Regions from separate parts of the Homo sapiens genome. Here region 2 is linked to region 1. The links come from fine-mapping of genetic effects on gene expression. A gene starts in region 1. The other region holds a variant in brackets. All regions are shown on one strand. Distances are from middle to middle.

Region 1 (2,923 bases):
CCTCAATTTGAAAAAGAACATTTGCAAAAATCCTGCAGTTAACATCATACTTACTGATAAGAAACCAGAAATTTTCCCACTAAGATCAGGAGCAAGACAAGGACATTTCCTCTCACTATTCTTTTTCAACATCGTTTAACCAAAAAGTTTTAACCAATGAAGTAAGATTAAAAAGGAAAAAAAGGTATACATATTGGGAAGGAAGAAAAAAACTGTCTTTATTTGCAGATGACGTAATTGTCCATGTAGAAAATCCAAAGGAATTGACAAAAAAGCTCCTGGAACTAGTAAGTGATTAACGGACGATTGCAGGATACAAGATTAATACATAAAATCAATTACTTTCCTATATGCCAGCAATGAACAAGTGGAATTTGAAATAAAAAACACAATGCCATTTCCATTAATATTCAAAAAAGAAATATTTCTGTATAAATCTAACAAAACATATACAAGATCTATATGAGGAAACCCATGAAACTATGATGAAGGAAATCAAAGAACTGAACAAATAGAGAGATATCCCATGTCCATGAATAGGAAGATTCAATACTGTCAGGATGTCAGTTCTTCCCTCCTTTATTGATAGATTTGATGAAGTCTCGTCAAAATCCCAGCGAGTTATTTTGTGGCTATTAACAAACTGATTCTAACATTTATATAGACAGACAACTCAAAAGAGCCAAGACAAAATTGAAAGAGAAGAACAGAATTGAAGGACTGGCAGTACCCAACTTCAAGACTTACTACAGAGCTGCAGCAATCAAGACAGTAAGGTATTGGTGAAAAAATAGACAAATAGATCAATGATACAAAGTAGAGAGCCCAGAAATAAACCCACATGAATACAGTCAACCAATCTTTGACAAAGGAGTAAAGAGAAAACACTGAAGGAAAAAAAACATGGTCATTTCGGAAAATGGTGCTGAGACAACTGAACACCTATAAGCCAAAAAAAAAAAAAATCTAGACACAAACCTTACACATGTCAGAAAAATTAAAATGTACGTATAGAACTATAAAACTCCTAGGAGATAACGCAGGTGACTTGAACACACTGGTGGACTATGAAATGCTGGGCTACGTGAAGGGTTAGCACCTTCACATTCCAGGGCAGCCAGAGCCCGCAGTGCTGGACAAGCGACCATCTTCACCCCTTCCAAACTGCATGCAAATAGGCAGAGCTCGGGCGATGGGGAGTGGGCATGAGAGACCACCTTCTCACTGTTCTGCAGGAGAGATCATGTTCTATGAGTGGCCATTTACTGCCCTCTCCATCCTCCCCGTCCCCAGGCCCTGCCCTCTCCTGAGACCCTCAGGGAAGTGCCATGTTGCCTACAGTTTCCTTGGCCAACCTCTATCCAGCCAGAACGCTCTCCTCATTCTCCCACACTCAGGGGACTCTCCTGTCCCGTAGCCATCTGTCCCAAAAAGCTCTTCTTTTCTAACATGCCTGGGCTGCTTTGACCCCATCCTACTGGCAGGTGGAGAGGAACTTTGCAGATACCCTGGGTGCAGGTCCTAAGGTCCCTGGGGGTGGGGTAGGAGAGGCTGGCAGAACTGAAACCCAGGAAGGCAGGCCATCTGTCTCAGAAGGGGCCCCACGCTGGGGTTTCTCAAACTCTCAGCAGTGGAATTGCACTTCTGCAATGAAAAATTACACTTCTATTTTCTTTCCTAAAGGGAAAAAGGAAGAATGCAACAAAACTGAAGTATGTTCTGCCACGTTCCTGAACTGCAGCCATAGGAGCCCTCCCAGCCCTACCCAAACCAGCCTACTCCCTCTCAAGAGCTCACAGCTGCAGGACTAGAGCCAGATGTGCCCCGGCAATAAGGTAAGTTGAAGCCAGAGGGGCTTGAACCCATGGGGAGAAGGGAGGGCCTGGTGGGGCTGGGAGGAGGGCTCCCCTGAGACACACATTCTGGAGTGTCTTCCTCCTGCCCCGTCCCAAAGGCTGGATTTGTAGGGCTGGGTTTCTGTTTCCCCAGAACACCTGGGATCCAAAAGACACGGGACAGCCTGTCGTGGATGGGCTCCTCTTTAGTGGGAGATTTCTGTTAGCTCTGGTTGGAGCAGAGAGTAAGGCCACACAGCAACTGTGAATCTTTCTTCCTGAGGGATTCTTTCAGGGTCTCTGTGCCGTGATATTAGTTTCTGGGAGTGAACTCTTGAGTTTCCAGCCAGGCCTGACAGCATGGGTTGCCCAGCCCACCTGTCCTGGGCTCAGCCTGTAACGCATACCTCGAGAAAAGGCTTTCTGGCTGGGCGTGGTGGCTTACGCCTGTAATCCCAGCACTTTGGAAGGTCGGGGCGGGCGGATCACCTAAAGTCAGGAGTTCGAGACCAGCCTGGCCAACATGGCGAAACCCCGTCTCTACTGAAAATACAAAAATTAGCTGGGCATGGTGGCGGGCACCTGTAATCCCAGCTACTGGGGAGGCTGAGGCAGGAGAATCCCTTGAACCTGGAAGACGGAGGCTACCATGAGCCAAGATCATGCCGCTATACTCCAGCCTGGGTGACAGTGTGAGACTCCATCTCAGAAAAAAAAAAAAAAGAAAAAAAAGAAAGGCTTTCGGCAGACTATGGCCAGATGGGGTGTGGGTAGAGGCATATGTGTGTCTGTGCCTTAGGGGAAAGGGGGTGCCCTCAGGCCTCTGATAGTGAAAGGGTGCCCTCACTATCAGACTAAAAGGTCTCAGCCATTAACCTACTGCATCTAAAAGGCAGGAGGGGCAGCAGGTTCAAGACCTGGAGGGACATTGAGTTCAAGCCACCTGCAACAGGCTCGCTGTCCCACAGCCTTTGAGACATGATCCCATTTGTGGTCTCTCTGGGTGATTTCACCATGTGTGTGTGTGGGCTTCTCATTTAGCCACTCGGCAAATGTGCCCCTGGACATTTATGGTGGCCAGGCCCTAT
Region 2 (2,923 bases), 21 kb after region 1:
AATTGCAACAACAAAAAAAATGCATAAAATAAATATAAAACATTGATCCTTATTGAAAAAATGTTTTTTACAATAGAAAATTGGAAACATGTCATTTATCCTACCATCCAGCTTAATTCTTATAATGTTTTATTATATTTCCTTCCCACCTCTTTCCATGTACTGTGTATGTATATTTGGTACTTTTAGTATTATTCTTATATGTAAAATTATAGATCTAACTTTTTTCTTTGTGTCATATTGTGAAGATTTTTGTACACATCTTTAATGACTTCTAAAAACTATCCTGATGAGTATACTATGCCACCACATGGACACATCATGCTTTAACTTAGTGGTTCTCAACCGGAGTGGATTTTGCCTCTCCCCAGAGGACATTTCACAATGTCTGGCTTGGGGAGAGGATACTACCAGTATCCAGCAGGTAGAGGCCAGGGAAGGTCTGTGTCTTGTTCACTTCCATTTCCCAGGGGGCTGGTCCAGACCTGGCACCTGGTCGGGGTTCAGTAAAAATCAGTAGGATGAAAGTGACCCTTCCTCTTTCCTCCCTTGCTTGTGAAGATGACCTGTACTTACATTTGAGTTTCTAGGCCAGGCTCTTTTCTGTCTTTTTCCCTGGATGGGACATATTAGAATAGTTTTTGAAAATGTGTCTAAGGGACTCAGGGTGAAAGTGCAAACCAATCTCAAAGAATACCTGAGTTGCCAGGCAGCAAGAAGACACTGGCACACATTCTCAAAGATGAGCCCAGAAGATATTTCATAATTGCCCAAGACAGTCTCATTACTTTAGTCTAGTAATTATTACTAGACATTATTATAGTCTAGTAATTTGCTTACTTTACAGGCAAGGAAAAATTTATTCAAAATATACAATATATTGTGCCGATTACTGGGAGTAGAATACTGGAAGAGAGATCATATACCACTGATGGAAGAAGTACAAACCTGACCCTGGCACTGGGAATATTAGGGAGAGAGAACCATCTCTCTCTCATCATTAAGGCACGACCATCTTCAACAAAACCAGAACCCAGAGTCACCTCCTGCCTCTGGCCTTTGCTGGACCCAGCAGAGGAGGCTGGCTGGAGAAATGCAGGGCGGAGAAGGAACCAGGACAGGGCTCTGAG[G/A]CCGCCCTAGAGATGGGTAGATGGCACTGCAGGGCCCCAGATCTCAGGGCCACCGGGTTGATTTTAGAGTCACTGCTAGTCCTTTGACCCCAAGACTGCCATAATCAGACTCAGCCTGGATAAACTAATGTGCCCATCCAGACTCTCAGACTCACTGGGGCTCAGTGAGCCCCTGGACCCTGCATGGAGTGGCATACCTTCCTCCTCGCAGTGTGGAAAGTGCTCTGCTTTCAGGACAAGCTCTGAAAAGCAGCATGAACTGTTTTGTTTTCTCGTTTTGTGCAAGAAAGCCAGTTGGCATACCCTATCTGTATTTCTAAAGTGGCCATGGATTACCTACATCAGAGGCACTTCGGATGCTTGTTAACAAGGTACATACTGGGGCCCCACACTGGACTTCCTGACTCAACCAATCTGGGAGCAAGTGCCAGGAATCAGAATCTCAATAAGCTCTTCAGGCAATACACACACACACACACACACACACACAATATACACATATACATACATATATACACACATATATATACACATATACATATATAAAACATAAAACATGTCATTTTAACCATTTTAAATATTCAAGTCAGTGTAATTACAATTCACATTGTTGCACGAACATCTTCACTGTTTTCAACATTTTGTGTGTGTGTGTGTGTGTGTGTGTGTGACGAAGTCTCACTCTGTTGCTCAGGCTGGAGTGGAGTGGCACGATCTAGGCTCACTGCAACTTCTGCCTCCCAGGTTCAAGTGATTCTCCTGCCTCACCCTCCCGCGTAGCTGGGATTACAGGTGCCCATCACCACGCCTGGCTAATTTTTGTATTTTTAGTAGAGACAGAGTTTCACCATGTTGTCCAGGCTGGTCTCGAACTCCTTACCTCAGGTGATCTGCCTGCCTCGGCCTGCCAAAATGTTGGGATTACAGGTGTGAGCCACCACGCTGGGCCGGTTTCCAGCATTATCACCCCAAACAGAAACCCTATCCCCATTAAATAATAATGTTTTCCCCTTCCCCCAGCCCTTGTAACCTCTAATCTACTTTCTGTCTCTGTGAATTTACCTAGCCTAGATATTCATCTAAATGGAGTCATACCATATGTGTCCTTTTGTCTCTGGCTTAGCTCACTCAGCATAATGTTTGCAAAGTTCATCCATGTTGTATCATGTAACAGAACTTCATTCTTTTTTATGGCTGAATAATATTTCATTGTATATATGCACGCTACATTTTGTTTATGCATTTATCCTTCTATGGACACTTGGGATGTTTCCACCCTTTGGCTATTATGGATAATGCTGCTATGAGCATTAGAGTTCAAATATCTACTTGAGTCCCCGCCTTCCTTTTTGTGTTTGTGTGTATACCTAGAAGTGAAATTGCGGGGTCATATAGTAACTCTATGTTTCACTTTTTGAGGAACTGCCATACTGTTTTCTATAGTAGCTGAAACATTTTCTATTTCTACCCACAATGCATGAGGGTTCCAGTTTCTTCACATCCTCACCAATGCCTGTTATTTTCCTTTTTTTTTTTTCTGCCTAATGTGCATAGCTTTGGGATGTGGGAGGAAACCCGAGTGCCCAGAGAAAACCCACGCAGGTATGTGGATAATGTGCCAACTGCACACAGACAGTGGCCCCAGGCCGGAATTGATTGTTTTTTTTTCTCATCAATCTTATAACGAAGCAACATTGGATGAATGGACATTATGGGAGGACTCACTGTATAGCCGTCTCAGTAGGTGCGAAGTGGAATCTCACTGTTGTTTTCTTCAGATCATTCTCACACAC

Evidence for each region. PIP is the estimated chance that this variant, and not a neighbour inherited with it, causes the effect.
Region 2: its variant is the best candidate, but not a certain one, in a credible set for the expression of TIFAB in whole blood (TOPMed, PIP 0.81).

The regions. Positions count from the first base shown.
Region 1 is chr5:135,451,121-135,454,043 of GRCh38, reverse strand. It overlaps TIFAB (TIFA inhibitor), which reads left to right and starts at 1,693. Exons shown (of 2, transcript NM_001099221.2): 1 at 1,693-1,835. The region is part of intron 1 of LOC124901073 (a long non-coding RNA gene); the gene reads right to left.
Region 2 is chr5:135,430,504-135,433,426 of GRCh38, reverse strand. No RefSeq gene overlaps it. Among named protein-coding and RNA genes, the nearest start is that of DCANP1, 15 kb to the left of the region's middle. The variant G/A (reference allele first, on the strand shown) is at 1,131.